4 linked regions of the Homo sapiens genome follow. The protein of the gene in region 2 interacts with the protein of the main gene of each other region in a biochemical or structural test. Each region holds a gene or a part of one and is shown on either strand. Other genes may lie near its edges. The genes, in order: FBP1, DNMT1, L3MBTL3 and BRAP.

Region 1 (7,022 bases), on a different chromosome or scaffold from region 2:
CGGATAATTAAAGCAACAAGGAAGGATCAGAGCCTGAAGCTGAAGGCACCAGCCTCCAGGAGATCTTCCATGGTGCCAGGAGCCTGGAAAATGTGTGCAAGAGTGAGACACCAGCATTGGTGACATCACATAACCCCCACTCCTGGGGAGGTAGGGGGGAGGGTCTAGTCTCTCAACCCCCACCAAGAGAGGACCGGGAGAGCCCTCAGGCATGGAAGCATGACCTTTATGGGGCATTGTCTTCATGGCCTTAGGAATGGCCCACTCTCTTCTAAGAGCCACTGGGAGGGAGGGCACAGACAGGGCTGCCACCCCTGGAAATGCTACCTAAAACCTCGATCTTAAGAGGCCTGGGCCCAACCTGCTTTGTACAAGAATGCCAAGAGTGGAGGGCCTCTGAGCTCACCTCACCTGTTGGGCCATCCTGAGGATGGCACAGCCCTCTACCTGGGACATTCGAAATTAGAACCTTACAGGCAGCCAGAGGTTTTTCTAGTGAGGTCTGAAGCAAAAGTACAGGGCACCAGGTAAATGCCGAGTGTATACTCCAAGGGGACCGAAACTCTTACATAAACATGGCACATCTGAATGTGCCTCTGGAGGAAGAAAGACCTATCAGTCTTGATCCTGGAAAAAAGAATATTTTGTTCACCATGTATCCTTAGCACCTAGAACAATGCCTGCACATAGTAAGTTCTCAATGTAAATGGATGAATAAATTTAGAGAGTAATAAAAGGATCCAAGAATTCCTAAGATCATAAACTCCATTAGACCCAGTGGTATTGGTAATGCCTGCCTGCATAACCTCTACCATCCAACACTCCCAACTCCTGAAAAAAACCCTCCAGATTAGCATAGCTTCTTGGTAAAAGTGTGTTTGCTGTGCAAACTTAGCGTTAGACAAATGCAATGGCCTTTCACCCGGTTCCTCAGGAAACTAGAGTGTAATGGTCAAGGCCCCAGGCTGGCACTCTACACCACCAGGGTTCCAATCCCAGCTCTGCTCCATGCTCAGCAGCCGGGGAAAGTCACTTAGCATCTGTGACCTCTGGTTCATCTGCAATATGGGAATGTAGTGTGTCTGCTTCATAGTCTACAGAGAGGGGGCATAACTGAGTTGATACAGGTAAAGTGGTCAGAAAAGTGCCTGGTGCATAGGCAAGTGTGCAAGAAATATTACCGTTTCCACCTCTAGCTCCCTTGGCATAACACAACCATGCGGAGAAGCAAGAACTCAGCACCAGAAAGACCTCAGTTCAAATTCTGCCTTTGCTTCTTACTGATGATGTGACATCAAGTTGTGCAAAGCCCCTGAGTGGCTGTTTCTGGCCATGTTTGTGGGGATCATGGATAATGCGCGCGGTGCACCTGGTTCATAGTACTCCCCACCAAGGCAGCCACATGACAATAGAGCCCCGCAGGCATCCACTAAGTAAGTGTGGGTTGATCTGGGGATTGGGGGAAGGGGAGGTATCTCTAAACCAGTTTTGCAGGCAACTTCTTGGAGGACAGCCAATAAGGAACTGGCAAAAGAAGAAAAAAGTGCTCCAAGTTTACATTTGATAAAATCTCACTGGGAATATTATTTATTTGAGATGTTCTTGACATTTCACTTCAATTTTATTCAAATTAGTTGGCCCTGCAGCCCAAGTAAAGTGGAAAAGCACCAGGCAGGGTTGAAGTCTCTGTGTCCTTTCCCTTTCCAGCCCCAGAGATACGAAGGAGCTCTTCCTGGAGTTTGGGGAGCAGAACTCAACTGGAGAAACTGCCTATAATATCTCTTCTTTACTTTTACTGTAAATCCCACTGAAAAATTTAAAGAGCTCTAAGTCATTTTAATTCATATGATGGAGAACACCTTAGAAGCATAGATTAATGTGGCCAGTATTTTGAAATCCTTGGATATTTTAATTAAATTTTAGCATTGTTTTCCAAGTTTACAAATGGTTTCTAAAACAGAATGAACCATTTCACAGCCATGGACTTTGTGACACTGAACATGCAGATTTGTGATGATTGGGGGAGGCTGCCTTCCACAGCATCTCTAAAACACTGAAGGACACAAGGATTGGAGCCAGGGGCTGACAGAACTAGAGCCCTCCAGGGCTGCCTGGATCTGCTGACTTAGGACCATCTCCTCCCGAAGTCACTGTGACTGAGTAACACGATTGCAGCAGCAACACTTCACACAGCACACAGAAGAACCAGACTCGGGCTCGGAACACGCAGCTCAACCAAAAGGGAGGGAGATTATTACTTAATCCTTATCACTAAAGTCAAAGGTAAGACTGGCTTGTTACTGCTTGATTCCATGGTAATCAACCATTTGCCCAGCCAGGAACATCCAAAGGTTCAGAAATACATTGAAGAGGTGCTAGTGAGAGCTGCTTTCAAAGGTCACAAATACCTGCCTCTGCTTGCATTCACCGGGGCCTAAACTGGTAAACAGGATGGAACGTGGCTGTCTGCGCTTCTTTTATGCAAACAAACTTGCAATTTCACTCCTTGGTCATGTGGAGAAGAGAATTCAAGAAACATAAAATAAATCTGGTAAAGTTTCTAAAAGCTTAATGCCAAAAACTGCAAATTGGAAGATAAGCCTAAACGTGTATTAGCTGACGTGTCATTCTAAAACGAAATCTGAAGCTCTTTATTATTTCTTCTGTCAAACAGCTGAGAGGACCCCATATATAAAAGTAACTCTTCTGGACATAATATGAGTCTGATGGGAGGACATTTCCTGCAGCCACTCTTGGGTGCAACATTGTTCTAATATGTAACATGCTAGCCTGGACTCTCTCCCTGCTGATAGCATACAGGCTACTGCTAAGAAATGAAGAACAAAACATGCAAATAAAAGTTTACAAAAAAATGAAAATAAAATAGACCAGGCACGGTGGCTCACACTTGTAAGCCCAGCACTTTGGGAGGCTGAGGCGGGTGGATGACGAAGTGAGGAGTTCAAGACCAGACTGGCCAACATAGTGAAACCCCGTCTCTACTAAAAATACAAAAATTAGTTGAGTGTGGTGGCAGGAACCTATAATCCCAGCTACCTGGAAGGCTGAGGCAGGAAAATCACCTGAACCTTGGAGGTGGAGGTTGCAGTGAACCGAGATCACACCACACCACAGCCCTCCAGCCTGGGTGACAGAGCTAGACTCTGTCTGAAAAATAAAGAAATATAGCCTTCAGGAAAACAATGATATTAATAACATTGGTACCCAATTAGTAAACTTAATTGATCCTCCTACGAGTCTCTGAGGCTGTCTCCATCTTAACAATTGGAGAAACAGGTTCAGTGATGTCACATCAACAGCCCAATCCTCACAGACGTTGAATGGCAGGGCCAGGAATCTAAGCTTGGCTCCATCTCTCTCCAAAACGTGCTCTGAATCCCTGCACATTCCTGTCTGCTAAACTGGTCCAGATCTCCTCCTCTTTTCTCTGCCTCAGGGCAAGCGTGCCAAAACAGACAGGCAAAACAGCCTGCAGCTGGACAGCATCTCCCAACAGATCACCCTCTAACATCTCAAGTTCAGCGTTTCCAAAATGTTGGGATCATCTTCCCTCCTTCCCCAGACTAAAAACCAGCTCCTCCTTGTTTTTGTTTTTGTGTTGTTTTGTTTTGTGGTGGCATGGGCTCTGCATTCAATTGCTAGGACCAGCGATTTCAGAAACTCCCTCACAGCCCTTCTCATCTAATCCATGCTCAGACTTCTTCCAAATCCTTCCTCTCCCCTCCAAGGCTGCAGCTCTGCTGGCTACTCAACTGACGGCTCCCCCTTGCCACTGGTTTTCCCATATCCTATCTTTCGCTCTTCCGATATACTTCCAGCCACACCTTCTCCAGATTTGTCTCCAGTCACGCAACTGCCCCACTCAAAAAACTTTCAAAATCCTTGATCTCTCCTTTTCTATACCCCCAAAAGTGTAAAGTGTTCACCCTTGCCATTTGATGCTTCCCCAATGTACCCACAATTTCACATCCACGAACGCCCTACCATGAGTACTCCATGCTTTGGTCAAATTGAGTGGGCAACTTTTCCAGAAACACTTTCCCACCTCAGGACTCCTCCCCCTGTGACCTCCAGCCTGAACTGCGGTCCAGCCGCCGGGCCTTTTGCTTCCCCTGCACGTGCCCATTCTTGGCGCTCCACAGTCCTTCACCATGAATCGTATTTTTGGCACCTCTATGAAAGCATCTTTCTTTTTTTTTTGAGACGGAGTCTCCCTATGTCGCCCAGGCTGGAGTGCAGTGGCGCGATCTCGGCTCACTGCAAGCTCCGCCTCCCAGATTCACAACATTCTCCTGCCTCAGCCTCCCAAGTAGCTGGGATTACAGGCGCCCGCCACCACGCCCGGCTAATTTTTTTGTATTTTTTGGTAGAGACGGGGTTTCACCGTGTTGGCCAGGATGGTCTCGATCTCCTGACCTCGTGATCCGCCCGACTCGGCCTCCCAAAGCGCTAGGATTACAGGCGTGAGCCACCGCGAAAGCATCTTTCAGACCGGGCGCAGTGGCTCACGCCTGTAATCCCAGGACTTTGGGAGGCCGGGGCGGGCAGATCACCTGAGGTCAGGAGTTTGAGACCAGCCTGACCAACATGGAGAAACCCCGTCTCTACTGAAAATACAAAAAAATTAGCTGGGCTTGGTGGTGGGCGCCTGTAATCCCAGCTATGGGAGGCTGAGGCAGGAGAATGGCATGAACCCGGGAGGCGGAGGTTGCAGTGAGCTGAGATCGCCCCACTGCACTCCAGCAAGGGCAACAGAGCGAGACTCTGCCTCAAAAAAAAAAAAAAGAAAGAAAAAGAAAGCATCTTTCAAAACCTCTATTGCGTGTTAGAACGATACAAATATTTTTTCCTACAGAGTAAACTCTGTGTTGTTCTCGTCTTCTGGAACTTTGTACATGGTGGATGTTCAGTAATATTTTGTTAATTGAATGAAATCAGTGAATTCTTCAGTCAGTGATTTGGAAATGGATACAAAGGGAAGTCAACTCCACAAAACAAAAAACCTGAAGCCACTGGAGCACCACTTTCTCCCAAAGGAATGCAAAGTGGACAACACTCGAATTTGACATTTGAACCACAACTTCATCAGCTTGACTTCAAGTTGCAGACTGTTCTGATCTGCACAGTTTCTCTCCCAAGAGTGGATGGAGGGAGCCAGAAGCCCAGAGGGAAGTCTCCCAGGGCACATTTGCCCAAAGCAATGACTCCTTGGTATCTAAGCCTGAATTCACATCAAAAATGTCGCCTGGCCAACATGGCTAAACCCTGTCTCTACTAAAAATACAAAAATTAGGCCGGGCGCAGTGGCTCACACTTCTAATCCCAGCACTTTGGGAGGCCGAGGCAGGTGGATCACTTGAGGCCAGTTCGACCCTGGTCAACTTGGCAAAATCCCATCTCTACTAAAAATACAAAAATTAGCCAGGTATGGTAGTGTACGCCTGTAATCTCAGCTACTCGGGAAATTGAGGCAGGAGAATCACTTGAACCCGGGAGGCAGAGGTTGCAGTAAGCTGAGATTGCACCACTGCACACCAGCCTGAGTGAGAGTGAGGCCCTGTCTCAAAAAAAAAAAAAAAAAAAAAAAACCAGTTAACTAATAGATGAGATTTAGAGTTTGGTGAATTCTAATTGATTTCTAAAAAATAAAGGAAGAGATGTGTAGTGTGGCCAAAAGACCTCCAATCCGGGGTTCCTGAGATCCCGGCCACAGGCCAAGTCATCTCATCTTCCTCGGTCTCAGGGTCCTCTTCTGTATGAGGAGGTGATAGACTAGCTGACTGTTGAGTCTCTTTCAGTCTAAAACTCAATGATTCCATGAACATTTTAACAGGAGCAATGAAAGTGACTACAATAGCAACTTTAGGTTACACCAGGCTCTGTGCTTAAACTCCTGATGTTTCCATAATGATCCTGGGTGAGCTCCCTAAACTGGCTCCAGTGAGGTTCCTGCAAATCTGCAATCACCCCGTCCCTCTGGGTACATGCTCTTCTAGGTCCGGTCTTCAGCACTAACAAGATCTTTGCAGGAATGCTGGTTTTTCTTTCTGGATTTCAATGCCTGGAATGAATGTAGGTTGGGGGCCTGGCTTGAGAATCATGCTACCTGCCTGATGACATGTGATACTGAAAATGGCCAAACGCTGAACTTCCCACAAGATCACCTCAGTGTCCAGCATCTAGTCCTGTCAGCTACCCCAACAACCAGGCATGCACACCAGTTCCAAGGGTACAGCACTGTAATACCCAAAGGCTAGTAAAAACCAAAGTGCCCCAAAATAGAGAAAAACTTCAATACCTCATGATGTGTGCAGGGGAGCAGCACACAGCAGTTAAAAGGAGGTAGATGTAGATGTCCCGATATTAATGGATGTTTCTTGAATAATGTTAAATAACAAAGCAAACTACAGAAATGTGTATTGTGATCCCATTTTGTCTGCTATTATAGGCATATGTAAATATGTGTTCATGTGTAAACTTATATGACTGTAAAAGAGTATCCGGAAAAATAAGCAGTAAATTATTTGCAGTGGATACCCCATGGGATATATATGGGGTGGGTTTCACTCTTCCCTTGAATTCTTTTGAATGGTTTAAATTTTTGTCAATGAGTGCAACATAGTATTTCTTTAAAACCTGGTATTCACAACTATCTAGTATAAAAGTACACATATTGGCCAGGCACAGTGGCTCATACCTGTAATCCCAGCATTTTGGGAGGCCAAGGTGGGCAGATCGCTTGAGCCCAGGAATTTGAGACCAGCCTGGGCAACATAACAAAACCCCATCTCTACAAAAACACAAAAATTATCCGGCATGGTGGCACATGCCTGTAGTCCCAGCTACAGGGGAGGCTGAGGTGGGAGCACCAATTCAGCCTGGGAGGTTGAGGCTGCAGTGAGCCATTATCACACCACTGCACTCCAGCCTGGGCAACAGAGTGCGACTCTATCTCAAAATAAATAAATAAATAAAACGCATACCTTACGTAGCCAAAATTA
Region 2 (6,940 bases):
ATTTTTTCTTTTCTTTTGTTTTTTGGAGACGGAGTTTCACTCTTGTCACCCAGGCTGGAGTGCAATGGTGTGATCTCAGCTCACTGCAACCTCCACCTCTCGGGTTCAAGCAGTACTCTTGCCTTAACCTCCTAAGTAGCTGGGATTACAGGTGCATGCCACCATACCCAGCTAATTTTGTATTTTTACTTTTATATTATTTATTTATTTATTTATTTATTTATTTTGAGATGGAGTTTCCCTCTTGTTGCCCAGGCTGGAGTACAATGGTGTAATCTCAGCTTACCTCAACCTCCACCTCCAGGGTTCAAGCAATTCTCCTGCCTCAGCCTCCGGAGTAGCTGGGGTTATAGGCATGAGCCACTATGTCCAGCTAATTTTGTATTTTTAGTAGAGATGGGGTTTCTCCATGTTGGCCAGGCTGGTCTCGAACTCCTGACCTCAGGTGATCCACCCGCCTTGGCTTCCCAAAGTGTTGGGATTACAGGTGTGAGCCACTGCACCTGGCCATTTTTTCTTTTTTAAAGACTGAATTAGGCTGGGTGCAGTGGCTTACACCTGTAATCCCAGCGCTTTGGGAGGCCAAGGCCAGCAGATCGCTTGAGCTCAGGAGTTTGAGACCAGCCTGGGCAACATGGAGAAATCCTGTCTCTACAAAAAATATAAAAAGTTAGCCCATTGTGGTGGCACATACCTGTAGTCCCAGCTACTTAAGAAGCTGAGGTAGGAGTATGCCTTGAGCCCAGGAGTTTGACACCTGCCTGGGCAACACAGCAAGACCCCATCTCTTAGCAGCAATATGATCTTTTTTTTTTTTTTTCCTGTCTCTTGGCTGTTGTGACTAATGCTGCAATGAAGACGGGTATGCAAATATCTCTTTAAGATCCTCTTTTCAATTCTTTTGAATTTATATCCAGAAATGGGATTGCTGGATCATATGATAATTCTATTTTTAATTTTTTTGAGGAACTTCCATGCTGTTTCTCATAGCAGCTCCACCATTTTATTCGACTCTCAACCGTGCACAAGGGTTCCAGTTTCTCCACATCTTCACCAACACTTATTATTTGACAGTGGCCATTCTAAGGGGTCTTAGGGATATTTCATTGTGGTTTTGATTTGCATTTCCCTGATGACCAGTGATGTTGAGCATCTTTTCATATGCCTGTTTTCTATTTGCATATCTCCTTTGGGAAAGTATGTATTCAAATCATTTGCTCTTTTTGTTTGTTTTTGAGACGGAGTCTCGCTCTGTTGCCCAGGCTGGATGGAGTGCAGTGGTGCAATCTCGGCTTGCTGCAAGCTCCACCTCCTGGGTTCACACCATTCTCCTGCCTCAGCCTCCTGATTAGCTGAGACTACAGGCGACTGCCACCACGCCTGGCTAATTTTTTGTATTTTTAGTAGAGATGGGGTTTCACCACGTTAGCCAGGATGGTCTCGATCTCCTGACCGCGTGATCCGCCTGCCGCCTGGGCCTCCCAAAGTGCTGGGATCACAGGTGTGAGCCACCGCACCCAGCCCATTTGCTCATTTGTAAATCGAGTTTTTGTTGTTGCATTGTAGAAATTTATTATTTTTTAAATTTTTATTTGAGACAGAGTTTCTCTCTTGTTGCGCAGGCTGGAGCGCAATGGTGCAATCTCGGCTCACTGCAACCTCCGCATCCCAGGTTCAAGTGATTCTCCTGCCTCAGCCTTCCGAGTAGCTGGGATTACAGGCACACCACCATGCCCAGCAAATTTTTATATTTTGAGGAGAGACAGGGTTTCACCATGTTGGCCAGGCTGGTCTCAAACTCTTGACCTCAGGTGATCCACCCGCCTTGGCCTCTCAAAGTGCTGGGATTACAGGCGTGAGCCACCAAGCCTGACGGGTAGTAATTTATTTTTTATATAATTTTTTTCTTCTTTTTTTGGTAGAGACGAGGTTTTGCCATGTTGCTCAGGCTGGTCTAAAACTACCGGGCTCAAGTGATCTGCCTACCCGGGCCTCCCAAAGTGCAGGGATCACAAGCATGAACCACCATGCCTGGCTGTAATTTTTCATATATTCCGGATATTAACCCTTTACCAGATAATACAGTTTGCAAACTTTTTTTTTCCCCATTCTGTAGGTTGCCTTTTCACTGTTGGTCATTTCTTTTGCTGTATAGCTATCCTTAAGTTTGTTGCAAACCCATTTGTCTATCTTTTGTCTTGTTGCCTGTGTTTTGCTGTCATATCCAAGAAATCATTGCCAAATCCATTGTCATGAAGCTTTTCCCCATGTTTTCTTCTAGGAGCACTATAGTTTCAGGTCTTATGTTTAATCTTTAATAAGTTTTGTGTTTTTGTATATGGTGTAAGGTAAGGGTCCAACTTCATTCTTTTGTATGTGGTTATACAGTTTTCTCAGCACCATTTGTTAAAGACACAATCTTTCCCCCATGTTCTGGTGCTTTAAAAAAAAAAAAAATTCTGGCTGGTTACGGTGGCTTAGGCCTATAATCCCAGCACTTTGGGAGGCTGAGGCAAGTGGACTGCTTGAGGCTAGGAGTCCCAGACTAGCCTGGCCAACATGGTGAAACCCTGTCTCTACCACCGAAGATACAAAAATTAGCCAGGCGTGGTGGAGTACGCCTGTAATCCCAGCCTACTAGGGAGGCTGAGGCATGAGAATCGCTTGAACCTGGGAGGCAGAGGTTGCAGTGAGCCAAGATCTCACCACTGCACGCCAGCCGGGGTGACAGAGTGAGGCAGGGTCTTACCCTGTCGCCCAGGCAGGAGTCCAGTGGCCCAATCATGGCTCATTGCAGCCTACACTGCCAGGGTTCAAGCCATCCTCCCACCTCAGCCTCCCAAGTAGCTAGGATTACAGGTGTGTGTCACCATGCCCAGCAAATCTTTGTATTTTTTGTAGAGATGGGGTATCCCTATGTTGCTCAGGCTGGTCTTGAACTCCTAACCTCAAGCGATCCTCCCACCTGGGCCTCTCAAAGCACTGGGATTACAGGCGTGAGCCACTGCGCCTGACATGGTGCTTCTTAATTTATTCTTACTTTTTATTTTTATTTTTTTGAGACAAGGTCTTGCTCTGTCTCCCAGGCTGGAATGTAGTGGTACAATCATGGCTCACTGCAACCTCTGCCTCTCCGGTTCAAGTGATCTTCCTGCCTCAACCTCTGGAGTAGTTTGGACTATGGGCACATGCCACAACGACTAGCTAATTTTTGTTTTTCTTTTTTTCTTTCTTTCTTTCTTTCTTTTTTTTTTTTTTTGAGATGCAGTTTCTCTATGTTACCTAGGCTGGTCTAAAACTCCTGGGCTCAAGCGATCCTCCCACCCTGGCCTCCCAAAGTGCTGGGATGACAGGCGTGAGCCACGTGGTGCTTAAAAAAGGCAACAAAAAACCCCCCACACACTGGGTATAGAAGTGGCATGGGCCTCTATACACTGTGAGATTCTTGGTACTAGCTACAAATTCTGTGTATACTCAAGATTTTCTAGAGTAGGTGCAATTACCCCGTTTTACAGATGAGGACACAGAGGCTGAGCCGTAGTGACCCACCTAAGGTCGTATAGCCAGCAAATAGATGGAGGTTGGATTGGAACTGAGGACTTTACTCAAGGGCTCTCACAAACCCTTGGGGGCTTCTCGCTGCTTTATCCCCATCACACCTGAAAGAATGAATGAATGAATGCCTCGGGCACCGTGCCCACCTCCCAGCAAACCGTGGAGCTTGGACGAGCCCACTGCTCCGCGTGGGGGGGGTGTGTGCCCGCCTTGCGCATGCGTGTTCCCTGGGCATGGCCGGCTCCGTTCCATCCTTCTGCACAGGGTATCGCCTCTCTCCGTTTGGTACATCCCCTCCTCCCCCACGCCCGGACTGGGGTGGTAGACGCCGCCTCCGCTCATCGCCCCTCCCCATCGGTTTCCGCGCGAAAAGCCGGGGCGCCTGCGCTGCCGCCGCCGCGTCTGCTGAAGCCTCCGAGATGCCGGCGCGTACCGCCCCAGCCCGGGTGCCCACACTGGCCGTCCCGGCCATCTCGCTGCCCGACGATGTCCGCAGGCGGTAGGTACCATGGGGGGGAACACGGACTCAGGGGGACAGGCAGGGCGCTGGGTGGGGGGTCGCTTCCCCTCGGGGTGGCCGGTGGCCGCTGCTGACAGACGGGCGCGCATGCGTGGGGTGGTGCGGCGCGCAGCGGCAGTTGGCGCGGGCAGGGTGGCACTTCCGGTCGCGCGTGCCCGGGCTGTTTGGCGCCAAAATGGACCGTGGATTCCCCCGTAGCTCCCTGGTGGCTAGAAACTAGGCGGGGTGGGGGTTCTCTTTTGATCCCCAAATACAGCAAGCTTTGGGTTCGTTTCCGGGGTCCCCTTCTTCAAGCAGCGGTGGGCCGGGCTCTTGACTCCAGCTTGGTCGCACAGGAAGTGGGCAGCCCGCGGCCAACGGACACCCCTCGGGCACCGGCACTTCGGCCTCCACTTCCGGTGTCCGGCCCGGTCCCCGGGGGCGCTTCTGTGGTGGGGGGTCCCTCAGTGCCTTTCCCCCAAAGCTGTGCATCTCGATGGCGGCCTCCAGAGACGGATGTCACCCGTCGGGGCCTGGGCTGGGCTGGCTCATGTTCGAGAGCCCAGCCTTCCGTGGGGTACTCATTCTGTCAGTTGGGACTGTGTGGTTCTTGCTCCTTGGGAAAGTCCATGTTTTGGCAGGAACTTTAACCGTGCATTGCAGCGCAGGGCCCGGGAAGCGTGAAGGCTGCATGGTTGGTCTTTTCCTGTAAATCTGTGCCTGTGAGCCGTGGGCATCAGGGAAGTCTTGCTAATGAGAACTGGCTACACTTTCGTGTGTGTTTGTGTGTGTTCATGGGTGTGTTCTTTAGTGTGTGTCTAATGTTGGAGGCCCTGGCTTTAGCAGTTCATGCCTCTGTCCAACTTCCGTGCACAAGGATCAGTGGGAGCACTGGTCCCAGCCCCTTGTTCATGAACGCCATCAGTTCATTCCTGAAAACTTGTTCAAGTGAGGTGTGCGTGAGTCAGAGGAACCCTCACCAGGCGTGGACACTTCCAGCTGGATTTGTGAAAGCACTCTTTGCCATTTTTCTATTTCCTTAGGCTTGTTAACTGACCTGGTTGGGCCAGTCCGGTTCTGATTTGGGTCTTTGGGGAGGGATGGATATTTGGTTCAACCCCCGCTTTTTTTCTTTTCTTTTTTTTTTTTTTTTTGAAGGCTGGGTGCTGTGGCTTATGCCTGTAATCCCAGCAATTTGGGAGGCAGTGGCGGACGAATCTCTTGAGCCAGGAGTTTGAGACCAGCCTGGGCAACAAGGCAAAACCCCATGTCTACTAAAAATACAAAAATTAGCCTGGAGTAGTGCCGTGCGCCTGTGGTCCCAACTACTCAACAGACTAAGGTGGGAGTATCACTTGAGCCCCAGAGGTTGAGGCTGTGTGTAGCGAGCTGAGATCGCGCTATTGCACTCCAGCCTGGGTGACAGAGTGAGACCCTGTCTCAAAAAAAGAAACACTTTTTATTTTTAGAGATGGGTCTCACTCTGTTGTCCAGGCTGGAGTGCCCTGGCACAATTATAACTCACTGTAGCCTTGAACTCCTGGGCTTAAGGGATCCTCAGCCTCCTGAGTAGCTGGGACCACAGGCGCCCACCACCATGCCCAGATGACTTTCTTAGTTTTTGTTTCTGTATACGTGAGGTTTCACCATATTGCCCAGGCTGGTCTTAAACCCCTGCCCTCAAGCAGTCCTCCTGCCTTTGTGTCCCAAAGGTTAGGATTACAAGTATGAGCCATCATGCCTTAACTACTACTTTTTTTTGTTTGTTTGTTTGAGATGGAGTCTCATTCTTTCACCCAGGCTGGAATGCGGTGGCGTGATCTCGGCTCACTGCAACCTCCACTTTCAGGGTTCAAGTGATTCTCCTGCCTCAGCCTCCGAAGTAGCTGGGATTACAGGTGCACACCACCACGCCTGGCTAATTTTTGTGTTTTCAGTGGAGTCGGGGTTTCTCCATGTTGGTCAGGCTGGTCTCGAACTCCTGACCTCGTGATCCACCTGCCTCAGCCTCCCAAAGTGCTGGGATTATAGTCAAACCACTTCTTAACCAGTTAGTGGGTATATATCTTCTTGAATCATCTGTGCCAGTATTCTCCCAAAATAAAACTTGATTTAAAATGGAATGGAAGTGAAATTATGAAAGTGCCTGGCTTCATGATGTTACACCCAATTCAGAGAAGTTTGGGCCCGGCCTTCCTTTTTTATTCCTTTTTTTTATTTTGTAGAGATGGGGTCTTGCCATGTTGCTCAGGCTGGTCTTCGATTCCTGGCCTCAAGCGATCCTCCTGCCTCAGCTTCCCAAAGTGTTGGGATTACGGGTGTGAGCCACCATGCCCAGCCTGCCCAGCCTTCTTGAAAACATGACCTCCACTGGCTCAATGACCTTAAACAAGCGTATGCCACCTCTATATCCATAGTCTAGGAATAATGACATGGGTTTTCAGCTGGTATTGGGTTAAATGAGAATATGCATGGCACATAAAGGTTCACATGCTAGTGGCTAACTTAGCTTGTTTTTTTCAGTTTTTTTTTAAGAGACAGGATCTCACTGTGTCACCCAGGCTGGAATGCAGTGGCACAGTCATGGCTTACTGCAGCCTTGAACCCCTGAGCTCAAGCAATCCTCCTGCCTTAGCCTCCTGAGTGGCTGGCACATGCCACCATGCCCAAGTTAATCCTTAAAAAATTTTTTAGAAGGCTGGGCGCGGTGGCTCACGTCTGTAATCCCAGCACTTTGGGAGGCTGAGATGGGCAGATCACCTGAGGTCAGGAGTTTGAGACCAGCCTGGCCAACGTGGCGAAACCCCATCTCTACTAAAAATACAAAAAAATTAGCCAGGTATGGTGGCAGGTGCCTGTAATCGCAGCTACTCGGGAGGCTGAGGC
Region 3 (7,574 bases), on a different chromosome or scaffold from region 2:
CTTAACATTCAAAATAAAGTCATCAGCTGAGACTCGTTAATTAAAAATTGATCAGAGGTACAGACACCGATAAATGCAAAAGCAAACAATTGTTTCCAATTCAGGGAGCGATCAATCTCAAATCTCTGAATAAAAGCAAAGTGTCTTTCCCATATAACTCATGTCGGATGGAAGTTACAGGGTCTGAGTCCTCAGAATTCATTGCTTCGATTTACTAAACTTTCAATTTCTGATCAGCATCCTTTCACACAACATCTGGCTGCTCGCTCAGGTCCTCTAATTACTTCCACGTCTGAACGGACTACGTAGCTACGAGTAAAGGCCAAACTTTGCTCTCGGCCTTCCGAACTTAAAAGACGCGTTCAACCACTAGAGGTCTCCCCTTGGCCAGTTTTGCACGTTCGCTATTTTGCTGCACTTGAAACTTTCCGGAGAAATGCTCTCTACTCGAGTCAGTGTTTTTCTAAAAACTTGCGCAAAAATCCACGCGACCGAGATAGCCAGCATAGAGCCTCTCGGACTCCCTAAACCAATAAAGACATCACAAACAACGCTCTAGGAAAACCAAAAGGAGAACTGGACGCACTCGCCCCGGCCGCGCCCCCCCACCCCAAATTCTTATTTCTCATCTCAGTTTCCCCTAACCTAACAATTAAAAATCTATTTTTGTTTCTGTGCACTCTGAATGATCTCGAATGCATTTTTCTGGCGGTGGCCCCGAGGTGGAGAAGCGGGCCAAGGGATGCGAGGCGTTGGGGGTGGGGGCGGTGAGGGGGAGGGCCGTGCTCACAGCGCCCGAGGAAGTTGCCTAAGGAAAGGGACTCCGTTTTTCGGGTCCCCTCAAAAAATCGGCGGGGAGGGGGAGGAAAAGGAAGCGGGGTGGTGGCAGCAGGGGGACTCAGAAGGGAAACCGAAGCAACGTTTACCTCCGTCTCCCGTGGAAGGGTGGGGTAGAGCCGCGGTCCCCGCGCCCTGGAAAGCGGCTAGTTACCCCCACCTCCCTCTGAGCGCGACGGACAGACCGACGCCCCCAGCCCTCCGCGGGGACCCGGGAGGAACACGCCCGCTTTTAAACTTTCTCTCACGGTCGCGCTGCGGGCTGTGCTTTGACCGGGACTGGGGGAGGGGGGAATCGCAGGGCCTTTTTTTCTTTAAAGGTAATTAAAGTTTTACCACCAGTCCAAAAGTTGCGCCCTCCCCCCGCCCGTGCCACCGTGCCCTCCTCCCCTTCCAGGGCTCTCAAGTTTTTCTCCCCGCCCGGCGGCCCCCACACTCCACCAGCTCGCGGGGCGCGCGGCGGATGCCTCGGCTCCTGCGCTTCCCGATCCCCACCCCCGCCGGCCTCTACTTCCCCCCGCCCCGCCGCCGCGGCGCGAGGACGGCCCGCGGGGCCCAGGACGCGAGTGTGCAAAGCCCATTATTCCGGAACCGCACACACACGCGGCGCGAGGCGGGCGGTGGCCCCGGCGCCGGCCCCGGCCCCGACCCCTCTTTTCCTCCCCAGAATAAGGCAGGCGTAAACAAGTTGCAGGAAAAGCAGCCCCGCGCCGCCCCCACCCTCCCCCCACAAGCCCGCCGCCCCGGCGCGGCCGCCGCCGCCGCGACCGCCGCCGCCGCCTCCCGACACACGCCCGCGCCCGCGCCCGCACCCGGGCCGGCGCGGCGCGGCACGGCGCGGGGCGAACGCCGCGACGGCGCGGGCTCCCGGCCCGGCCCGCGGCCCGCGCCCTCTCCCGCGCGGACGGCCGCCGCGGGCCCGCGCCGCCTCGCTTCCCAAAGCACTTTCCTGCCTCGGGCAGAAATAAACCGGAGGGTTTATTTTTGTGCAACTTTCCCAAAATGGCGGAAATTGGAGCTGATCTATATGAAATTCTCACACACTCGGTTGGGAAGAGGGAGGCGGCGAGGAAGCCACGCAAACTCTCGGCCGCCGAGCCCCGCCGCGGGTCCGTGTGTGTGCGTGCGTGTGAGTGTGCGTGTGCGCGGTGGGAGTCGGGCAGGCCTTTCCGCCGCGCACACACACAGCACACGCCGGGGAGACGCGCCTGCACATTCAACCAGTCCATTCTCCGCAGCCCGAAAGGGGAGAAAGTGGCCCGGCCTCTTTTCCCACTGCCTCGGTCTCCCGTACTTGTACTTCTCGCGCTCGCCCGCCCGCTCGCTCGCTCTCCGGTGCGCGCCCGGCACAAAGGCCACACGGGCGGAGGGGGCCGCAGGGGCGGCGCGCGGGGCTCGCGCCTCCCGCCGCACCGATCCGCGGCCCCGGCCGCCCCCGCGCCCCCCGCCGGCGCCCCCCGCCTCGGCGGCCGCGCTCGCCGCCTGGGCTGCGGCTCCGCGGCGCCCACCCGGACACGCACCCCGGTGGAGCCCGGCGCCGCCGCGCTCCCCCACCCCGCGCCCGGTGTCACGAAAGCGACCAAAGTGACAAGCTCGGGGGGCGCGGGGGAGGGGGCCACACGCATCCCGCCGCCTGCGCGCCAGCCTGAGCCCAACGCGGCCGCCTCGCCCCGGCTCCCTTCCGCACGGCCCCCCACACCCTTCCCCGTGTGCGCGCAAAGAAAAAAATACAAGTCTCTCCTCCCCCCATTTTTTCCTTTCTCTTTTCTCTCTCTTTTGTTCCTCTTTCACACTCGCACTCACTACTTCAGAGTGAGATGCCCAGAGACTCCCCCTCCAGCCGTTTCCGAGTCACTTGCCCACTTTTTTCCCCGGGATTAAGTTTTCTCCTCTTTCCCAGAGGCGCAGAGAAGTGGGGGAGAAACCCCTTCTGTCCCTCCCCTCCCCTGATCTGTTTCACAAGACGAGGGTGCGCTTCCTTCCCTCTATAGGGCTCTTAACTTTCATCCTCACCCAGAAAAATAAATGAATGGCTTTTGCACGGACAAATCTTCAGATTAATTAGAGATTAGATCCGATCAACCGCTTCTTACCCCCAAATTTTCTCTTTTTTTTTTCTCCGTCTCACGAGTAGTCCTGACAAATGGTCCAGGGCTGCGGGCGCAATGCGCATGTGCGCGTAGAGTCAGGGCTGGGGAGAGGGGAAACTGCGCTGGTGCCGGTGCCGCCGCCGCCGCCGCCGCTGCCGGGGAGGCTCGCTCTGGCTTCCCTGTTACTGCTGCTGCGCCTTCGCCGCTGGAAAGCAGCAATAAAGCCGGGTGGCAAATGCAGCTGCCCGCAGATCCTGTTTCAGGTGCATCTTTTCAATAGCCCGGTCACCGCCTCAGAGCTGGTTCAAGAACAGTCCAAACAAATAGGAAACACTGCTAAGGTTCCAGATTTCTTTGTCTATTTTTCACTTTACTTTTTTTAAAGGCAATTCTCAGAGCAGCGAATCCACCATGTGCTGTGAAATGTATGCATTCAGCCATTAAAGAGTGGGCCTTAGTCTTGCACAAACACTGCCCAAAGGCTAAATACATGCTACAGGTCATGAAAAGTAACAAAGTTGTAAGCTTTGGGAGAGTACAATCTCCCTCTCTTTGATGGCTGGAACAATGCATAATAAAGAAAGTGTGCATATAAAACTTGTGCCTTCTTTCCGCTTCCTAAGTGCGGATCTTTATTGACAGCTCCAACATGTTAGGCCTCTGTCGAGTAATAGGCTGAGATTCCTACAGTAACTTAGAACACTGTGAAAGTCCCTTGGCAATAAGCAGGTCCAGGACTACCCTCTTAAGGTATTCAGTCAAGATGGCTGAGCGGTCCTAAATGGCAAAACCTGTCTTTGTTAAAGCGTCAAAACTAGATCAAGAGAGTATTACATTTCAGTATTGACAGCTTTCGGCGCATTGACTGCGGGCCGCCGTTTGGACAGCTTCACTGGTCTTTTCCACTTAATAGGAGTACTTACAAAATAATTCGAGTAATTAAAGTTTTGATAAACATTTTGATGTCAATAGCAGAGTTTGCTGTGTGAAAAAAAAAAGCATGTGTGATTTTAGGAATGAGGGAAGCATGTCTTAGATTTTGCGGGGGGGGGGAGGTAAAAGGAAGTTCCCATCCCCAGAGTAGACTATTTTGCATCTAATAAAGGGTAAAGGAGGCCCTTTTCTGAAACTGCTGCCTGAGGCCTAGAATTTAAATATATCACAGATGGAAGTTCTATATTAAAAATCCTTCTCCAGTGTAGGGAATATTATTCTTGATTGAATTTTTTCACTTAAGGAATGTTTCTTGAACCAGTTTCAGAACATAAACTCTTAAATTCTTTCCTTAGGACCATGAAATTACCCTATAGAAGCAGACCACCCGATATATCTAATGTTGGTGTAGTGACCAAATTCTCCAAACCAAAAATCAGGCCATATGCCTTAACATGTACTCCAGAACAAACGGACAAATCCTGTGAAGCTGAAATGAACTTATAAAATGCTTCATACGTTGAACAGCCGTTGGCTGAGGGGTGTGAAGTAGAGAAGGCTGGGTAGTGAGAGCTGTAGATGATCTCAAACCACCAGTTCACTATTGATTTCACCCACCACATTCAACCCTTTTCAGAGCTGTTCCCAAACAGCTTAATTAACTGATCTGAATTTCAGCTTCTCTCCTTTTCTCTCTAGCCCTTGAATAATAAGCAGTGAAATGGCCAAAGGCAAACTGCAGGAGAAGGAAAGAAAGGGCATGAGCTATGTACAAAACTAAGACCTTGCCCCCATGGAAACTAAATTAATTTTAGATTCCTCTTTCTGAAAAATCAATTTTAGATTCCTTCTCTCAAGATAATTTCTAGATGATATTTCTGTTGTACTTATGTTTTCAGTGATACTGGTTCAACAGTCTATAAATGTGTATTAATGGCCTACCTGTGCTAAGTGCTCTGCAAGGTGCTGGGGATAAACAGGTGACCAAAACTAGGCCCCAGCTACAAGAAATTCAGCCTGGTGGAGAGACAGTGTAGTAAATTGGGCATTATGTTACAGTAATGTTATATGGAAAATGTTATAGCAGAGGTATGTAGAGCAAACACAGTTGAGCACCAGTGGCAATAAGGAAAGGCTTTACATTAGAAGTGATGGCTAAGCTGATTCTTGAAGGACAAACATCCAGGGTACATGATGCCATTCTTCTTCCCAGAAGGTGTCTGGGAACATGAACCAATCAGAGAAGTCCTGAGTAAAGGTCCGAGTGTTTCAAGAGCAAGGCTTGCCTAGAAAGTGTACTGACAGAGGTTCACTAACAGAAATAAGGATGACTTGAGGCTCTCTATGATACACTCTTTCTCCTCCGGAGATCATTATTAAAACCTCATCTCAATTTTTCTCAAGATGTGGTTCAGGATAGTAAAGATTTTGAAAGTACTCACTTGTAGGAATAATGACTTTAAAGGCTGCTGTCAAAGTTTTCTACAAAGAATCCTTTGGTGCCACTATCTAAAACAGAGGTAAAATACATTATTAGAAGCTAGGTAACATGATTTTATTCTTCGCATAAATGTGTACTATTTACCAGACCTTTCTCCGTCTGTTCACTAAATAGTAATATACTAGCAGAGGCTTCTTTGCCATCCCTTCCACCTTCCACCATTCACTCACTTGTTAATGATTCATGATGAATGCCTTCTTTCCGGCATCACTTAATCTCATCATCCTCTACCACTCTCCCACCTTCCCATCCCACCCTCCTCCACCCTGCCACATGTAAATACCAAATCCATGCTTCAGGTTCAGGTCTATAACTTCCCTGACGTCCCACACTCAGCTATGAGCTCACTCCTTTATTTTTCTTTATATTTATTTGTTTATATCCAAACTTGTCCACCCCAAAATGATTTCAGGTTACTACATTCCCAAATATTCTGAAGCTAAAGTCATTTTACATAGAAAATGTTTTAAACAAATCACTGTACTCACTCTCCAGAGAATTTTTGAAGCCTCTCATCACCCCATCCCCCACCCTCATGGATGTCATTCAAAACTTCTCACTGTACTCCATCCTGGAATGTCGATGCTGCATGCACTTCATTTTAGAAATCTTAGCTACTGCAGGATGTGGTGGCTCACGCCTGTAATCCCAGCACTTCAGGAGGCCTAGGTAGATGGATCATCTGAGGTCAGGCGTTCGAGACCAGCCCAGCCAACATGGTGAAACCCCGTCTCTACTAAAGATACAAAATTATCTGGGCATGGTGGTGCATGCCTACAATCCCAGCTACTTGGGAGGCTGAGGCAAGAGAATCACTTGAACCCAAGAGGCAGAGGTTGCAGTAAGCCGAGATTGCACCATTGCATTCCAGCCTGGGCAACAAGAGCGAAACTCTGTCTCAAAACAAACAAACAAACAAACAAAAATGCTTAGCACCCTTTTCCTAACACTATGCTTGTCCTGCATTGATAAGACAGGCCCCTCATGTCCTGGAAAAATTCAAGGATTACATTTTCCATGAGCCAGCCCTTCACAAATTGAAAGTGCCCAGGAGTGAAGTCCAAGAGACTGGTGTTCTAATCCAGTTCTGCTACCACCACTGGGAACCATTAGCCATGTCACCTCACGTTTTAGGAGCTTCAGTTCTCTCCCTACTTAGATAAAGTAAACAGAGTAATTGATTTTTTCCCTTTTTTTTCCTTTTAATTGGCCCTGCTTCCTGAAGTTTTTGTTGTTGTGTTTTGGAGGCAGTGGCTTGCTCTGTCACCTGGGCTGGAGTTTAATGGCGCAATCACAGCTCACTGCAGCCTCGACTTCCCAAGCTCAAATGATCTTCCCACCTCAGCCTCCCAAGTAGCTAGGACTACAGGAGCATGCCACCATGCCTGGCTGATGTTTTTTATGTTTTGTAGAGATGGAGATCTCGTTATGTTGCCCTGGTGGTTTCAAACTCCTGAGCTCAAGTGATCCTCCTGCCTCGGCCTCCCAAAGTGCTGGAATTACAGGAATAAGCCACTGCGCTCAGTCTGATTTCTGAAGTCTCCTTGAAAGCCATGTATCTCCCTACTCCTTCTCACATAACAGCAACACAATCATATTTTAGTACAAATAATATGGAACCGAGAAAGGGATTTTTAAGTAAAGAGTAAAGGCTCATCCAATAGGTATCATAATGTTATCAATGAATAGCTCATTCAGCTTGGCTTAAGCCTGGTACTAATGAGATGGAGGTCATGGGTTTCATTCCCTAATGGCTAGTTAGTTTTGATCTGTTTCATAGCCACAGACTGCTTTCCTAACCCCGGTCCCCCATGTTACAATGTGTGCTATTGGTCACAAGTCTTAAGGTAAAATTGAACCTTTCTATAGAAATTTTCTAAAAGAACAATTCTTGAAATCATCCTTTTAATGTATTATCTTACTGTTACATATGAGTCAAGTTATTGATTTTTTTTAGCCTATATAATTGTGTGCTCTGTGTTTTTCCAACTGTAAAAATGATGTTAACATTGATTTGGCCAAAATTCTTATCATTGATATTTGTAAGAGCTGAGTCTGGTCTTCCTGTTAATGTTCTAGATAACACTGAAATGTTCTTATAGTTCTTTTCATTTGAATACCAATCTCTTGCTTGTGATACATCTGTATCCAACACTCAGCACAAAGCTTATGATAGTGAAATGTAATTGAAATGCTGAGGGGGAAAAAAGGGG
Region 4 (7,454 bases), on a different chromosome or scaffold from region 2:
CACGTAAGTACTTAACACAAACTTTGTTTCATGCACAAAATTATTTAAAATATTGTATAAAATTACCATCAGGCTAGGTGTATAAGATATATATGAAACATATATATATAAGTGAATTTCATGTTTAGCCTTGGGTCCCAACCCCAAGATATCTCATTATATATACGCAGATATATCAAAATCCAAAATCTGAACTACTTCTGGTTCCAAACATTTGGGACAAGGGATACTCAACCTCTATAAGCACCTAGAGAAAGGACTCTTAAGTGGTAAATCTTGAATATAATGTGTTTCTCATCTATAGTCAGCCCTCTGTATTTGTGAGTTCCACATCTGCAGATTCAGCCAACTACAATAGAAAATATTCGAAGTAAGGCCGGGTGCAGTGGCTCACGCCTGTAATCCCAGCACTCTGGGAGGCCGAGGCGGGCGGATCACAAAGTCAGGAGATTGAGACCATCCTGGCTAACACGGTGAAACCCCATCTCTACTAAAAATACAAAAAATTAGCCGGGCGTGGTGGTGGGCACCTGTAGTCCCAGCTACTCAAGAGGCTGAGGCAGGAGAATGGTGTGAACTGGGGAGGCGGAGCTTGCAGTGAGCCGAGATGGTGCCACTGGACTCCAGCCTGGGCAACAGAGTGAGACTCCATCTCAAAAAAAAAAAAAGAAGAAAATATTTGAAGTAAAACAAAACAAAACAAACACACACAGTAAGGGCACAGTAACTGACGCCTGTAATCCCAGAACTTTGGGATGCTAATGTAGGCGGATCACCTGAGGTCGAGAGTTCGAGACCAACCTGGTCAACATTGTGAAGCCCCGTCTCTACTAAAAACACAGAAAAAAAATTAGCCAGGCGTGGTGGCGCACACCTGTAATCCCAGATACTCGGGAGGCTGGGACATGAGAATCACTTGAACCAGGGAAGTGGAGGTTGCAGTGAACCAAGATTGCACCACTGCACTCCACATTCCAGCCGGGGTTATAGAGTGAGACTCCATCTCAAAAACAAACAAAAACCAACAAAAATAACAACACAACAATAAAAAATGCAAACAAAAAATACAGGTTAACAACTATTTATTTACACAGTACTTACACTGTTTTAGGTATACATACATATATATGCATGTATATATATTTATATATTTTGATATGGATATGATTTGATATATATATTAAATATATATATTTTTTGATATGGAGTCTCCCTCTGTCACCAGGCTGGAATGCGGTGGCATGATCAGAGCTCACTGCAACCTCCACCTCCTGGGTTCAAGCGATTCTCCTGCCTCAGCCTCCCGAGTAGCTGGGATTACAGGTGCGTGCCACCACGCCTGGCTAATTTTTGTGTTTTTACTGGAGACAGGATTTCACCATGTTGGCCAGAATGGTCTCGATCTCTTGACCTCATTATCCACCCACCTTGGCCTCCCTAAGTGCTGGGATTACAGGCGTGAGCCATCGTGCCCAGCCAGTATTATAAGCAATCTAGGGATTACTTAACTCATATCTTGCTTGCCCTGAGAATACTGTGCTGGCAGCGAGCTGCACTTTTTTTGCTTTCTTTTTTTTGTTTTGTTTTGAGACGGAGTCTTGCTCTGTCGCCCAGGCTGGAGTGCAATGGTGTGATCTCGGCTCACTGCAACCGCCTCCCAGGTTCAAGCTATTCTCTTGCCTCAGCCTCCCGAGTAGCTGAGACTACAGGCGCTCGCCACCACATCCAGCTAATTTTTTGTATTTTTATAGTGGAGACGGGTGTTAACCATGTTGGCCAGGCTGGTCTCGAACTCCTGACCTCAAGTGATCCACCGGCCTCGGCCTCCCAAAGTGCTGGGATTGCAGGCGTGAGCCACCACACCAAGTCAAGTACTTTTTTTTTCTAAATGGGAAATGGGTTAAAGCATATAGGAGGGTGTACATAGGTTATAAACAAATGCTACACCATTGTATATCAGGAACTTGAGCATCCACAGATTTTGGCATCTGCAGGGGGTCCTGCACCCATCTGCTGAGGATACCACCATGCAACGACAGTAATTGGAAATTTGCTGAATTTGGGGGCAATATTTGAAACTAAAAATGTCAAGGTTCATTTGCATTTTCAGTTTTACTTAACGTTCCTATGCCAAGGCCAATGTTTATGATAGAAAGAGAAATTTACTTACACACTTGTATATTTTGTGTGAGGGCTTAGTAGAGACGAAAAATGCCTTTGGGGGGGCCGGGCGCGGTGGCTCACGCCTGTCATCCCAGCACTTTGGGAGGCCGAAGTGGGCGGATCACAAGGTCAGGAGTTCGAGACAAGTCTGACCAACATGGTGAAACCCTATCTCTAAAAAAAAATACAAAAATCAGCTGGGTGCAGTGCTGTGTGCCTGTAGTCCCAGCTACTTGGGAGACTGAGGCAGGAAGCTTGAACCCAGGAAGCCGAGGTTGCAGTGAGCCGAGATGGCACCACTGCACTCCAGCCTGGGCGACAGAGTGAGACTCCGTCTCAAAATACAAAAAAAAAAAAAGGTTTGTTTGGTAAAGAGATAAAGAATGTTCGTTCTGGATTCAGATTGCCTGAATTTCAGTTCCAGCTCTGCCACTACTACCTGTGAAATCCTGAGCCAGTTACTCTTCCTCCAAGCCTCAGGTTACTCCTCTGTAGAACAGGGACATAGTACCAGTTTCATAAAGTTGTTGTGACCATTGCATGACACAAGGTATATGAAACACTCAAATTAGTACCTGGCACATGTTGAAATGTTATCTACTATAGTAATATACTAAAAAAGTTCACAAGAGGTCTCATAGGTTTTATGCATACAGTATGTGTGTATGGTTTATGCACTTTCACATAACCCTGTGATTCTTCAACAGGGTTATGTTTTCTAACCCCAAGGAGACATCTGGAAAGGTCCAGAGACATTATTGGTTGTCACCACCTGGGGAGAGGTGCTACTGACATCTAGTGGGTCAGGCCAGGGATGTTTCTAAACACTCTACAATGCTCAGGACACCCCGCCCCCTTGCCAAAAACAAAAAAGAATAATCAGGACCCAAAATGTTAATAGTGCAGAGTTGAGAAACCCTGATTTAAACAGGGCATATGGAAACGTATTTCATAGGATGTAGTCACAAGATCTATATACGCATGTATCTTGTGGTCATGTCATAGTCCAGATACACACACATCTAGAACGCACTATGTCCACACACACACACATCTAGAATGTACTATGTACTTACATATGTATCATTATACAATGTACCTAGAGTAGCATCCTGTCATGTATGTGTCCCATATGCATTGATTGTGTCAGTATCTACATACAAAAGCCACTCTGACATACTGGAAAGAATGCTGAGCCTCAGAAAAGCTAATGTTATCTCCATATACATAATTCCATTTCATCCTCACAACTGCATGAGGACATGATATCATGCCAACTTTATGCAATGACTATACTAGTTCAAGACTGCACAACTGCTGATGTAGGTCAACCTCATAGTACGGACAGGAACTGTGTTTATCTTATACGCCAACGTATCTCAAGCATCCCAAGGGTGTCTAGACTCTCAGTAAACATTTGTGAAGTGACAGGGTGGGGAGGAGGACCCCGGTCTAACTGCAGCACTATGCTCGTAACCAGCAGATCACCATCTTTTCTCTCTTTTTTTTGAGACGGAGTTTCGCTCTTGTTGCCCAGGCGGGAGTGCACTAGCACTATCTCGACTCACTGCAACCTCCGCCTCCCGGGTTCAAGCGATTCTCCTGTCTCAGCCTCCCAAGTAGCTTGGACTACAGACGCGCGCCACCAAGCCCGGCTAATTTTTTGTATGTTCAGTAGAGACGAGGTTTCACCATGTTGGCCAGGTTGGTCTCGAACTGCTGACCTGAGGTGATTCGCCCGCCTAAGCCTCTGGGCTGGGATTACAGGCGTGAGCCACCGCGCCCAGCCAGATCGCTATCTGAACAGCGATCGACTCTCCACTCTCTACGGCCCCTTAGAAGGAACTTCACCTCTCTGAGCCTCGTTGTACCTATCTGTAAAGTGGGACAGAAACAAAACCATCCAGACTAGGGTTAGAGACAGGAGTCAAACACAACAAAAGGGGCAAAGTTCTGCATAGCAGATAGCTCGGACAATTCGGAGACCTCGCGGAGCCAGGGATCCCGCGCCGTCAGCCGAGGTGGATTAGGACGAGGCCTCTGGAGCAAGCAGAGGTTAACTCGCGACTGTGCGAAAACCTGCAGCTCAGCCTAAGTGTGGCACCCCAGCGCAAGCAATCTCCACGACGTCCTTCCGCTCCGACCTCCTCAAAATTGCGTCCGGAAGAGCAGTGGGTGACCCCTGCCACGCCGCCCAATCGCTGTGCGCGGTCCTGCGCGCATGCGTAAACCGCAGGTCAGCGACGGCGGCCGGGAGGCGGAAGTGGAGGTTGTTGTGGCTCCGAGGGCTGTTCGAGGAGCTGCTGCTGCTGAGGCGGCGGCAACTGCATTGAGGTGGTGGCGGCGCTGCCGGCCCCGGGCCGCTCGGCCTCTCGGCTCGCCTTCCAGCCTCGCCTGAGCCCGCCGGGGCCCGCGCCGGCCAGCGCCTGCCCTATGAGTGTGTCACTGGTTGTTATCCGATTGGAGCTCGCGGAACACTCGCCTGTCCCCGCCGGCTTCGGCTTCAGCGCCGCGGGTGAGTCCCGCGGCCTCGCCGCATTCCCTGTAGCCGGGTCTGGGCCCGGAGGGCTTCCCTTCCCAAAGCACTGGCCCGGGAAAAGCCCGCGGCGAGGGCTGTTGCCCAGGAAGACACGGAGAGGTAATCGGGATCCCTCTCTTTCCCATCCGCCTTTGAGAGGCCTTCCCGTTTGTTATCTCAGGGAAGCCCTGCCCCGAACCTCCCTCCCTGTGCCGTCTGAGGGCATTTAGTTTATACCTGGCGCGTCTCCCTCTCGAGATAGTCGAGTGGTGTGTTTGTCTCACTTGCTTCCCTATGGGCTTCGTAAAGGCAGGGACTGGGTCCCCAGCAACGCTGGACGGTCCCTGGGTTAATTAAATTGTTCCCTTTTGGAACGATATCCATTGAAGTGCCCCCTAACCATAGTCATAACTAAAATTTGGACACTTCCTATATCCCAGCACTGTACTAAGCACCTTTTGTGTATTGTATTCTTTAATTATCTTTGCAACAGCCCTAAGAGGCAGATGGATGTGACATGTACCTCTTACACATTGGGAAACTGAAGCTTAGTGATTAATTGATTTGCCCAAGGTTATCTGTAATGGGTGAAACTGGGATTCTAACTCAGTGAGCTGGACTTGAGTCTGAGCTTTTTACACCATTAACACAAGTGAGGAAGCTCCTTAGTGGGGAATGCAGCTCTGGCTCTGTTCCTTGGTCCTCAGATAATTAACTAACATTCATTCAAGAAATACTTGGCCGGGCGCGGTGGCTCACGCCTGTAATCCTCACACTTTGGGAGGCCGAGGCGGGCGGGTCACCTGAGGTTGAGAGTTCAAGACCAGCCTGGCCAACATGGTGAAACCCTGTCTGTACTAAAAATACAAAAATTAGCTGGGCGTGGTGACAGGTGCCTGTAATCCCAGCTACTGGGGAGGCTGAGGCAGGAGAATCGCTTGAACCCGGGAGGTGGAGGTTGCGGTGAGCCAAGATTGTGGCACTGCACTCCAGCCTGGGCGACAAGAGATAAAGTCCATTTCAAAAAAAAAAACAAAAAAAAAACTTATGCTCATATCTGCTGGAGCCTTCCTTGTGTGCTGAATCAGACAGCGTCTCTGTTTTAATGGCACCAGCAGTATCATGGAGGAAACAGATGAATTAAATAAGTGCAGAATATGTGTAGAATTACAACTGTGGTAAGTGCTGTGAAGGAAAGGAGAAACAATTTGGGAAAGTATTACAAGAAGATGTGTTTGGTTTGGAGAGAGGGATGGGGGCAGGTAGGGATGGTGTCATTGGGAACTTCCTGAGGACGTGACCTTTGAAGCTGCAAATTAAAGATTGAATATGACTTTATAGCTTATGAGCACCTTTCCAAAGGCTAAAAGTGGCTTCTGAGTTCTGAGAGTCAGCTAAATTGATATTAGCCGCATATAGACATCTGCATGGGTCAGTCATGTAGTCATTTATTCATCAAACATTTAGAGGGCTTCCTCTGTGTGCTCGGCACTGTGGTATAAGGGCTGGGAATACAGTGGTGGGCAAAACAGGCCTTGTCCCTGCCCTGACAGAGCATGTATTAGGGATATTTCAGTTAAGTCTCCAAATTCCGTTTCCCTTTTCATGTGTTTCATTGATTTAAGACAGTAATCACAGATGTTCATGGCTTGGTTCATGGCATGAGCATAAGCCAGGATGTTTAAGACTACCCCTACAAGTTTTTGAAATTTTGTTTTTTTAATGGACTTGATAGCTTCATTTTGGGCTGAACACAATTTCATTTTATCAGGTGTTACTAAAATGTTAGCTCATCTGGGCATGATCACTGTTGCATCTTCTCTAAGGCTCCCTCTTTGGCGATTTGCTTTAAAGTGCATGATTTTGGGCCAGGCGCAGTGGCTCAAACCTGTAATTCCAGCGCTTTGGGAGGTCAAGGCGGGTGGATCACTTTGAGGCCAGGAGTTCGAGACCAGCCTGTCCAACATGGTGAAGCCCCATCTCTACTGAAAGTACAAAAATTAGCTGGGCGTGGTGGCACGTGCCTGTAATCCCAGCTACTCGGGAGGCTGGGGCAGGAGAATCACTTGAACCTGGGAGGTGGAGGTTGCAGTGAGCCAAGATCACACCACTGCACTCCAGCCTGGGTGACAGAGTGAGACTCTGTCTCAAAAAATAAAAATAAAGTGCATGATTTCAGTAGAACAGCCCTGCATTTCTGAGTATATTGTCCTGGCTGCTTATTGACTCTTTGCTGTGTACTGCAGTGGTCCCAGAGTTGAGTGAGATGGATACTACAAAGGCTTCTTATCATCTTGGCGGAAGGCAGGAGAAAGAAAAGGAAAACCTAATGATAGAGGAATAGAGAACAGAGAGGAGCTTGTTTTATTACCTTGTATTAATCATTCATGTGTTCTTTAGCCGGGGAAATGTCTGATGAGGAGATAAAAAAGACGACACTAGCCTCAGCTGTAGCCTGTTTAGAAGGCAAGTCACCAGGAGAGAAAGTAGCGATTATCCATCAGCATCTCGGCCGTCGAGAAATGACAGATGTGATCATTGAGACCATGAAGTCCAACCCAGGTATGCTTTCTAAAACCCTGGACTCTCTTTTGTAATGTGAACACTGGTTGCCTATTTTATACACGGTGTTTGATGAGCCTACAATTTCAACATCTAGCATACTTTTGTCTTTCACTACGTGTGTGCTTTATATGACACTGTTAAGCCACATGTTAGTGTTTCCAAATATTTCTTCCAAATTAATCCTAACAGTTGGAGTTGACAATTCAGT

What was found.
Region 1: the proteins of DNMT1 (region 2) and FBP1 form a complex in vitro, tested with the Homo sapiens proteins (one study listed by BioGRID).
Region 3: the proteins of DNMT1 (region 2) and L3MBTL3 form a complex in vitro, tested with the Homo sapiens proteins (one study listed by BioGRID and IntAct).
Region 4: the proteins of DNMT1 (region 2) and BRAP form a complex in vitro, tested with the Homo sapiens proteins (one study listed by BioGRID).

What each region holds. Positions count from the first base shown.
Region 1 is NC_000009.12:94,629,502-94,636,523, forward strand, and holds part of FBP1 (fructose-1,6-bisphosphatase 1), read right to left. Parts: intron 1-7,022. UniProt on the Homo sapiens protein: Catalyzes the hydrolysis of fructose 1,6-bisphosphate to fructose 6-phosphate in the presence of divalent cations, acting as a rate-limiting enzyme in gluconeogenesis. Plays a role in regulating glucose sensing and insulin secretion of pancreatic beta-cells.
Region 2 is NC_000019.10:10,191,934-10,198,873, reverse strand, and holds the start of DNMT1 (DNA (cytosine-5)-methyltransferase 1), read left to right. Parts: upstream 1-3,920; 5' UTR 3,921-3,974; coding exon 3,975-4,054; intron 4,055-6,940. UniProt on the Homo sapiens protein: Methylates CpG residues. Preferentially methylates hemimethylated DNA. Associates with DNA replication sites in S phase maintaining the methylation pattern in the newly synthesized strand, that is essential for epigenetic inheritance.
Region 3 is NC_000006.12:130,014,021-130,021,594, reverse strand, and holds the start of L3MBTL3 (lethal(3)malignant brain tumor-like protein 3), read right to left. Parts: upstream 3,015-7,574; 5' UTR 2,931-3,014; exon of another isoform or gene 2,851-2,930; intron 2,795-2,850; exon of another isoform or gene 2,641-2,794; intron 2,536-2,640; exon of another isoform or gene 2,358-2,535; intron 2,275-2,357; exon of another isoform or gene 2,132-2,274; intron 1,952-2,131; exon of another isoform or gene 1,882-1,951; intron 1,331-1,881; exon of another isoform or gene 927-1,330; intron 869-926; exon of another isoform or gene 1-868. UniProt on the Homo sapiens protein: Is a negative regulator of Notch target genes expression, required for RBPJ-mediated transcriptional repression. It recruits KDM1A to Notch-responsive elements and promotes KDM1A-mediated H3K4me demethylation.
Region 4 is NC_000012.12:111,682,935-111,690,388, reverse strand, and holds the start of BRAP (BRCA1-associated protein), read left to right. Parts: upstream 1-4,432; 5' UTR 4,433-4,596; coding exon 4,597-4,678; coding exon of another isoform or gene 4,679-4,801; intron 4,802-7,081; coding exon 7,082-7,243; intron 7,244-7,454. UniProt on the Homo sapiens protein: Negatively regulates MAP kinase activation by limiting the formation of Raf/MEK complexes probably by inactivation of the KSR1 scaffold protein.